Linked DNA regions of Homo sapiens: region 1 is linked to region 2. Evidence: fine-mapped expression QTL. Tissue or cell type: whole blood. Region 2 holds a variant in brackets; the other region holds the start of a gene. All regions are shown on one strand. Distances are from middle to middle.

Region 1 (5,151 bases), 71 kb before region 2:
ACAGCACCTCCCTCCCTCAATCACCTTCTTCTGGTCTCTCCTCTAAGGTCACTTCTTGAGTGAGGTCTCCCTGATGACCTCCTTTCCCATGTCACATCATTCTGGTTCGTATTCTTTACTCAGCAAGTCATAACCACTGCGTGCCTCCATTTTTCAATCTGTAAAATGGAGACAATAATGGCGCTGGCCTCATGGAGTTGTTTTAAGGTAAAAATGAGTAAATATAGAGTAATGGTTCTCAACCAGGGGTGATTCTTATCCCAGGGTGGAGACATTTGGTAATATCTGAAGACATTTTTGGTTGGCATGACTAGGAAGCTGCTACTGGTACCTAGTGAGTAGAGGCCGGGGTGCTGCTGAAATCTCTGCAATGCACAAACCCTCTACTAGTAAGAACTGGCCAATACAAAACATCAGTAGTGCTGAAGCTGAGAAACTATGCTTTAGGGAAAATGTTTAAGATGGTGCCTGGCTCTTAACGATCACCCAAGAAATGCCAGCTGTCATTATTGCCCACCACCCTTTCCCTCACACTTTGCCCCGAGTGGATTCATCAGTAAATACTCGCTTTATAAACATAAAGATTGAGGGATGCATTCCTCACAACCAGGCATACAGTAAGTGCTCGATAAAAATTTGGTTAATGTTAGTGCATGTGAAAGGTAAATGAGATGGTGCATTCTCCAGTGTCAGGCACAAGGCGGGCATTTCATAGATATTTTATTAGTTAATGCATGTGAGGGTTAAAGACTATCTCTGGGGATTGGTACACAGTAGATGCTCAATATGTGTCAAGTGAATAAATGAGAGGACCAAATGAAATGGTGTTTGCACAGCACCTGGTGCATGGTAGCTGCTCAGGGCTCATTAGCTTCCTCACCTCATCCCCAGACCCTAACACTTACCAGCTACCTGGACCTCAGTCTTGGCCTTCATAGTCCATTCAGAGTTGATGGTAATGGCTACTTGGTAGGTGCCACTGTCTGTAGGCTGGGCGCGGCGCAGCAGCATGGAACCATTGGGGAAGCCCACGATGTCTCGCTGTCCCATGGCACTGCCATCCCTCTGAGGCCGTTGTATCCCAGGGATGTAGGTAAATAGCCTCGTGCCTCCGTACGTCTCCTCCCCCAGGTACCAGTTGAAGTCCTGGAAGGTGTCTGGGACACCCTGGACTGACAGGAGAAGGTCCTGGTTCTTTTGAGGCTGCTCTGGAATCTTCTGGATGTAGAGAGCTGCCTGGGAGCCTTGGAGCATCCAGAGGACCAGGATTGAGGCTGTGGGAAGTTACAGGGAAGGGCTGAGATCAGGGGTGTTGCCAGGGACCATGGCATGCTCCTCTCTAGATACAGATCTTCAGCGGGGAGCAAGGACTCTGAGTGCTGCTCATTGGAAACAATGCTGGGATTGATTAGTGATGTCTGCCCTGGGTGCAGGAGTGGGAACACAGGCATGGTTACCACAGATTTGCCATCCTGTTGATCCAGAGGTTTTTCTACCTTGAGATGCTGTGTGGCCTGCTTCTAAACACATGGACTCTCTGAATTCATTCATTCATTCATTTATTCAACCAATACTTATAGGCATATGTAATATATAAGCTATAATACCAACTATATGTAATACATCTAAACTTCCTTCAATTTCTAGACACTGGAGATATAGCAGGGAACCAAACATACATAAATTCCTGCCTTCATGGTCCTAACATTATAGAAAATTCCATAGATAAAATGGCAATGAGGCTGTGATTCTGTTGCCCCTCCCCCATCTTATTCTAATTTCATCCTCTCAGGTAATCTTTCCCTACTTCTAAGAGGAAACTTCAATCTCTGGGCTGAGTCCCCATTTCTCCCCTTGGCCTTTAGGGTCTATTTCCTCCTTACCTGAGAGCAGGAGGCTCTTTGAGAAGCAGCCCTGGGTCCCCATGGGAATCTCCATCTTGGCGTCTTGTGGAAATGCCAAGGGGCCACGAGCTGGACACTAAGGGGGCCAGAGGGGTGGGCCCTGGCTGTCTGAAGTAGGCCAGCTCAGTGGGGATCCCAGGGGTGCCTTAGAGACACCGCTGGGGCTGGCCCAGCCCCAGCATGCCCTGTCCATGGGCTCTGGAGGCTCCACCTATACTCCCTGGGATGGGAGCACAGACAGAGGTTGAACCAGTTTTTCAGGGTGACTGGGGAACTTCCCAGGACTCCTCCCCTGACCCTCTTCAACCTCTTTTTCTCACTCAGCGTGACTACAACAGCAGTCACTGTAGCAATAGTCATAACAGCCTCTGTTTGAACAATTCCCCTGGGTTTGTTCAAACACACACTGCCTCATTCAGCAGCCACCATAAATAACTGTTCCCATTGCACAGATGTGGAAACAGAGGCCCAGGAAAAGAGGCAAGTCTGCCAATAGACAGAGGTGGGATTTCACCTGTGGCTGACTCACTTGAAGGCTCTGAGGCAGGCTGGGTGCGGTGGCTCACGCCTGTAATCCCAGCATTTTGGGAGGCCAAGGTGGGTAGATCACGAGGTGAGGAATTTGAGACCAGCCTGGCCAACATGGTGAAACCCTGTCTCTACTAAAAATACAAAAGTTAGTCAGGCGTGGTGGTGGGCACCTGTAATCCCAGCAACTGGAGAGGCTGAGGCAGGAGAATCACTTGAACTTGGGAGGCAGGGGTTGCAGGGAGCCGAGATCGCGCCACTGCATTCCAGCCTGGGTGACAGAGCGAGACTTCGTCTCAAAAAAAAAAAAAAGCTCTTAGCCTCGTGTTTTTCTTTTTTTTTCTTTTGAGATGGAGTTTCGCTCTTGTTGCCCAGGCTGGAGTGCAATGGCGCAATCTCAGTTCACCGCAACCTCTGCCACCTGGGTTCAAGCGATCCTCCCACCTCAGGGAGTAGCTGGAAATGCAGGCATGCGCCACCACGCCCGGCTACTTTTGTAGTTTTAGTAGAGACAGGGTTTCTCCATGTTGGTCAGGCTGGTCTTGAACTCCTGACCTCAGGTGATCTGCCCACCTTGGCCTCCCAAAGTGCTGGGATTACAGGTGTGAGCCACCGCGCTCAGCCTGTTTTTTTTTTTTTTTTTTTTTTTTTTTTTTCTTGAGACAGGGTCTTGCTCTGTCTTTCCATTCATGAACATTGGTTGTCTTACCATTTAAATATGTCACCTATAATTGCAAGAATATTTTGTAGTTTTTGGATTGGTTTCTTTTTTAGATGCTGTGTCACCCAGGCTGGAGTACAGTGGCACAATCTCAGTTTACTGCAACCTCCGCCTCCCAGGTTCAAGTGATTCTTCTGCCTCAGCCTTCTGAGTAGCTGGGATTACAGGCATGCGTCACCATGCCTGGCTAATTTTTGTATTTTTAGTAGAGATGGGGTTTTGCCATGTTGGCCAGGCTGGTCTCAAACTCCTGACCTCAGATGATCCTCCTGCCTCGGCCTCCCAAAGTACTAGGAGTATAGGCATGAGCCACTGCACCCAGCCCCAGAGTGTATGTTTTGTACTTTTTTGGATCATGTTTATTCCAAGTGTGTTATTCTTTTTTTTTTTTTTTAAGACAGGGTCTCGCTCTGTTGCCCAGGCTGGAGTATAGTTGCATGATCATTGCTCACTGCAGCCTCCAACTCCTGGGCTCAAGCAATCCTCCCGTCTCAGCCTCCTGAGTAGCTGGGACCACAGTTGTGTGCTACCATCCCTGGTCAATTTTTATATGTTTTGTAGAGATGGGATCTCACTATGTTGCCCCAGGCTGGTGTTGAACTCCTGGGCTCAAGTGATCCTCCCACCTTAGCCTCCCAAAGTACTGGGATTACAGATGTGACTCACCATACCTGGCTTAGCCTAGTTTTTAAAAAGCATCCTCCATTCATTCCAGCACACATTCCCAGTGCCCAGTTGTGTGTGCTGGGTGATGTTGGTGACACAGTGATGATTGAGACCACCTCTGCTCTGCCCTCTGTCCACAGTAGGGCACACAATCCTGTAGGGTTTGGGGGGGCAGACCCCTCTCACACAATTATGATCCAGAGTGATCAGGGCTGGGATGGAGGAGCCCAGGAGTCTGGGAGAGCCCAAGGAGACACACCTCATTCAACCTGACGGCTAGGGAGGGCTTCCTGGGGGAGGGGGCATCTGAGCTGAGACCTGGAGTAAGAGTAGAAATGAGGCAGATGATGGGGTGAGGCAGCATGAGGTGCACCAGGCAGCATAAATAGCAATGCAAGGATGTGGAGGCTGAGATAGTCATCAAGGTGTATTGAGGAGGTTGCAATATCTTGGGTGAGTGGAGCCAGGAAGGAGGGTGTGGGGCCTGTGTGTGTGAGGCTGGGAGGTAGGAGAGATCAAATGTGCTCTGTTGGTTGGATCAACAGAGCTTGGATAATGGAGGGTCTAGTGTTATGCTGTTTAATATCATAGCTATTAGTCATATGTGGCTATTTAAATATAAATTTAGGGAGGCACAGGTGACCCACACTTGTAATCCTACCCCTCTGAGAGGCTGAGGTGGGAAGATTGCTTGAGCCTAGGAATTGGAGACCAGGCTGGGCAACATAGTAGGACCCCAACTTTACACAAAACAAATTTAAAAAATTAGGTAGGCTTGGTGGCTTTCAACTATAGTTCCAGTTACTCAGAAGGCTGAGGCAGGAGGATTGTTGAACCTGGGAGGTCAAGGCTGCAGTGAACTTTGATCATGACACTGCACTCCAGCCTGGGTGACAGAGTGAGACCATGTCTCAAAAAAATATACTGAATAGGCCAGGCGTGGTGGCTCATGCCTGTAGTCCTAGCACTTTGGGAGGCAGAGGCAGGCAGATCACTTGAGGTCAGGAGTTCAAGACCAGCCCGGGCAACATGATGAAACCCTGTCTCTACTAAAAATGCAAACATTAGCTGGCCGTGGTGGCGCATGCCTGTAATCCCAGCTACTCGGGAGGCTGAGGCAGGAGAATCACTTGAACCTGGGAGGTGGAGGTTATAGTGAGCCAAGATTGTGCCACTGCACTCCGGCCTGGGCAACAGAGCAAGACTCCATCTCCAAAAAAAAAAACTGAATATATATATATTATTTTATATATAATATATATTATATATAATTATATATTATATTATATATATTATATTATATTATATTATATATTATATTTATATATACAT
Region 2 (5,151 bases):
GATGGTTGGATTACAGCTTGATTTTGTACATTTTAGGGGGACAGAAGTTACAGGCAGACATCAGTCAGTACACGTAAGGTATACGCTGATTCAGCCCAGAAAGGTGGGACAACTTGAAGTGGGGCAGAGGGGTTACAGGTCATAAATGGATTCAAAGATTTTCTGATTGGCAATTGGTTGAAAGAGTTAAGTTATCATCTCAAGACCTGGAATCAATAGAAAGGAATGTCTGGGATAAGATAAGTTGTTGTGGAGACTAAGGTTCTTTTTTTTTTTTTTTTTTTTTTTGAGACAGAGTCTTGCTCTGTTGCCCAGGCTGGAGTGCAGTGGCGTGATTGCGATCTCGGCTCACTGCAACCTCTGCCTCCCAGGTTCAAGCAATTCTCCTGCCTCAGCCTCTTGAGTAGCTGGGATTACAGGCACCCGCCACCAATGTCTGGCTAATTTTTTATATTTTTAGTAGAGATGGGGTTTTGCCATTTTGGCCAGGCTGGTCTCGAACTCCTGACCTCAAGTGATCTGCCTGCCTTGGCCTCCAAAAGTGTTGGGATTACAAACGTAAGCCACCACACCCGTTTAGATTTTTTTTGAGATACCACTGAAACAGTGTCATTGCCTGGGGTAAATACCCGAGATTCGCTGTCTCACAGCCACAGAAAACTAGGACATGGACCACCAGAGTAAGATTAAGAGGGGAAGTTTAATAGGTGAAAGAAAGAGAAGAGCTCTCTGCACAGAGAGGGGTTCTGGAGAAAATAGGTTGCCACTTTGGCAGTGAAATGCAGAAGGTTTTATAGATGAGATTGAGGAGGCTGTGTCTGATTTACATAGGACACGAAAGATTGGTCGGACCAGGTGTGCCATTTGCATAGCACATGATGAACTGGTTAGGACTAAGTGTGCCGTTTGCATAGCGCGCAAAGAAGCTGGCTGCCCCACCCAGCTTCATTATGCAGATGGGTTGTCTACCTGGCCAGTGCCATGTTGCCTGCTTTTTTTTTTTTAACCGCACATGTGGTAACAAACAAAAGGGAAGATGGAGCCTCCAGGTTGAACATACCTGGCTTCCAGGTAGCCCTTTTCTATTGGCACAGCTGCCAGCATTCACCCATGCAAGCTTCCAGCTTGCTTATCTATGTCTGCAGCTCAATTTTTCAGGCTGCTCTTTGTTTAGAAAAGAAATGATTTTGGGGCTGCTTTTTGTTAAAGAGGAATTCCACCAAGGACTCTGTTGCTCTTACTATCTGCCTAAATAATTTCTTTCTATCTTCTGTATCATCACCAGTGTGTTTTGAGAGGCTCTTGCCTGTGTGAATTCAGCAAGCCCTGCAGAGGTCTGGAGCCGACAATTCCAGTTAGCAGCAACAGCAGCAGCTTTTTGATTCCCCACCTGCCTGTGATGGTGGAGACAGCAGCTCCTCTGATGGGTCACTTTCGCAGCTTCAGATCATCGTGGGGTACTAATGGAGTCAGAGTCCTTTCTCTTTTCCATCATAGAACAGTCAGATGTCTTTCCCAGGGATGGATCTGTCCCCTTCGCCTTCTGAGAAATTGAATTAGGCCAGGTGCAGGGGCTCACACCTGTAATCCTAGTGCTTTGGGAGGCCAAGGTGGGAGGATTGCTTGAGGCCAGGAGTTCCTGACCAGCCTGGGCAACATAGTGAGACTCCATCTATTTTTTTAAAAAGTTAGCTAGGCAGTTAGCTAGTGCCTGTAGTTCCAGCTACCAGGAGGCTGAGGTGGGAGGATTGCTTTAGCCCATGAGTTCCGGGCTGCCGTGAGTTACGGTTCCTGTCACTGCACTCCAGTCCCAGCCATTCCCAGGAGACAGAGTGAGACCCTGTCTTTAAAAAAATAAAAAAAGTAAAAAACAACAAAAAAAAGAATTTAAGTTAATTCAATCTTCAATCAAATCAGAAGCACATGAATGTCCTAACACCAGACTGACCCCTGAAATATCTTAGGAAACACAAGTGCAATAGTATTCCAAATGAAAGCAATTTTCTCATCTTGCTGTTTTCAGCCACCATCCATATATCAGCATGAAGGAAAATATTCATTTAAATGAGACAAGACT[G/A]TTACATTATCTATATGTTTTAATAAAAATTTCTAGCAGAGTCCTGGGTGGTCTTTTTAGCTCTATGAGGGTAGGGGAAGGGAGAATGGCCAATGAAAACTCATAATTCTTTGTACTTTTTAGGAAAAAGGAGTGTCATTACCAGGAATAACAAATTAGAAATGAAGACAATCAGCCCAGCTTTGGGAAGTTAGAGGTGGCTCTTGCAGGATGCAGCAAGAGCAGTCTCTGAAGTCTGGGTGTCTTATAGGACTCCTTTGTGAGAACCACATTTACAAGGAAGGTTTTATGAGGGAAAGAGTGTCTGCTTTTCTATAGTTGCAGAAGAGAGAATGATTTTCTCCTTTTTATGCTGCTGAGATTTTTATTTCCAGGAGTTACAACAGCCCAGAGTTTCAAGGCAAAATCTTGCAATCACATTTTTTGGTATTGAGAGGAGAACAAAGCAGCAGCTCTAATACGGTAAAAATGTGACAACATGGGAAAGAAATAGGAGTAACAGGATTACTAATAAATAGAAGATGATGCATGCAGCGTTTTGCATCCCCAAGATGAATAAACAAAGTAGGAAAGAAAAGTGCCAACTTCGGTTGTGCTGTGCTAGGACGCCTGAGAATCTGGGCCAGTCATTTGGACTCAAGAATCTGTCACTTTCAGCTGTATCTCATTCAAAGGTTAATGGTGACATTAGGTTTTCCCATATCTTGGAATAATATCCACATCTGCCCAGTTGTCTCTTGAAGAGTGGCATTTGGAAAATTCTTGACTTCTTGCAAAGCTGAGACGTCTACAATGGTGACAACTTGCAGTCTTTAAGTTTTAATTGAGTTTCCCCTCTGCCTCTTGGTGTCGACCCCACATTTACAAACATTTTCAGGGACATTCCTCCTTGCCTCCTGTGTTCCTGTTCCTCATCCCATCCTATGCTTAACTGAGCCGGGGCTGTGTTTAGACGAGAAAACCAGCCCCTCAAACATGACTTTGGATGCTTTTGGCCATACAAAGTGGATAACTCAATTCAAAGTGGTTTAAAACACTGACGTGTATTATCTTATGTAGCAGGGATTCCAATGAAAGGGCAGTTCCTCGGTTGGTTAATACAATGGCTCAGTAATAACACCAAAGATCCAGGTTCTTCATCTTCCTACCCCAGCCTCAACAGGTTGTCCTCTCATGGTGACTTCCCTCCCAGTCCAAGATGGTGGCCAGCCGCATCCAGAGACACAAAAGGGGAATTGCTGCTCCTAGTTCTCTTCAAGATCCAATAAAATCTCTCCCATCAGCCCCCAGCAGACTTCTTCTCACTAGGCATTGGCCAGAACAAGGTCCCATGCCCATTCTTCTTTCCCTTTTCTCCAACTGTCCAAAGAATACCCAACGGTTTCTGCTCCCAACTCCCAATTCTCACTCATCTAGAGAGCTGGTCAGGACCCTAACAGGTATGCCTGAGAGAATAGTTATGTGCTACCTGGGCCAGGTTGCCCTCTGCTCTTCTCCTAGACTGTCCGCCATTTGCCACCAAATTCTTCCTGTTGCTTGTCTACAATGACCCTGTCATTTGGGCTGTAACAAGAGTAATCTATCTTGTGTGAATGATATATAGAAGCTATTGTTATTGTTCTATCTCATCCTGCTCCACCTTGCCCTGCCCTTCTCTGGAAGTGGATACAGCGGGGGATACCCCACTCAATCTAGTTCTTACATCCCCTTCTCATCCCAGGTGGCTGTGGACCAGAATCAGGACCAGTGCCTTGCCCACCTTGGTGGGAGCCATTTATTGTGCTCTGTGTGAATGGTGTCCCCTGGTCGTGGAGGTGTGTATTTTGGGTGAGGACAATGGTAAGATAAGGGCTCGTCTAGATGGGGGTGCAAGACTGGATCCTTCATCTCTGGGTTGGGGAGGTGAAGAAGATCGGAACTCACCCCATTTACAGTTCCTGAAGATCACCAGGTAAACACTCCCTCTGGCTGCCACACAGGAAGAGTGGATTGTTGATTCACATTGGCTCCCAGCTGGGCAGGGCAGGGACCTTGTCCTGGCTGGGGCTAGGATTCTTATCAAGAGTTTCTTCTGGCTGGGCTCCAAAAGGCGATTAATGGCTGCTTGGCCTTGGGCCTGTTCCCCAGGTTGCCATCTGCTCCAGGTTAGTGACATCCACTGGCCCACTGTGGATAGTTTTTGGTGGAATCAGTTCTCCAAATGTCTGTCAGGAAACTTTTCAGTTTAGAGACCCTCAGGGGCTGAAGGTTTAGGATGCCCACCATCTCTACAGAAGGAAGAAGGTTTTGGAAGAGACGCTTCTGATGTCCACATCCTCTATGTCCTTGGTAATACATACCCTGATTTTTAAATGGATGCATGGGAGTCCAGCAAAAAATATATTCTCTAGGTTCCCTGGAGCTAAGTGTGGCCATGTGGCTGACTTTTGGCCAATAGATAGAAGTAGAAGTGTTATATGAGGCTACTAGGAGCTGGCCTTAAAGATAGCTTTTGTTCCTAATCCTTTCACTACTGAACAGAATGTGGATATGATGGCTGGAGCTCTGGCAGCCATCTTGGACCCCAAGTTATGTACTGAAGATGACAGGCCAGTAATAATTGAAGGAGGCTGTGTCCCCAGGATTATGAAACTGCCACATTTGCCCTGAACTCTCTACCTCCAGACTCCATTTATGTCAAAGAGAAACTTCCATCTTGTTGAGGCCATTTGATTTTGGGGTTTTCTGTTACTTGCAGCTGAAGCTAGTCTTGACAAAATGCTCTCTCTGGGAGGAGGAATGCAGGATGCATCCTGTCAGGGCAGGTGTAGCTCTTAAGGTTCTTTTGGGTCTATATGGCAGGAGTCCAACTTGAGGCAGTTTACACACAAAGGGAAATTTGTTATAAATGAGTTCCAAGACAGGAGAGCACAGAGACACCCAGAACCAGAGGTTCCAATCCCCTCAGGGACCTCTCTCTCTCATTGTCCCTCTCTCTCTCAAAGTGCCTCCCAAAGTGCTGGGATTACAGGCATGAGCCACCACACCCAACCTCTATTTTTAATTTTTTGAGGAGCCACCATACTGTCTTCTAC

Evidence for each region. PIP is the estimated chance that this variant, and not a neighbour inherited with it, causes the effect.
Region 1: CEACAM19 starts here. The variant in region 2 is fine-mapped to the expression of CEACAM19 in whole blood (GTEx, PIP 0.94).

Annotation. Positions count from the first base shown.
Region 1 is chr19:44,668,719-44,673,869 of GRCh38, reverse strand. It overlaps CEACAM19 (CEA cell adhesion molecule 19), which reads right to left and starts at 2,388. Exons shown (of 8, transcript NM_001127893.3): 1 at 1,884-2,388; 2 at 906-1,274. The coding sequence starts at 1,938.
Region 2 is chr19:44,598,039-44,603,189 of GRCh38, reverse strand. No RefSeq gene overlaps it. Among named protein-coding and RNA genes, the nearest start is that of IGSF23, 13 kb to the left of the region's middle. The variant G/A (reference allele first, on the strand shown) is at 2,078.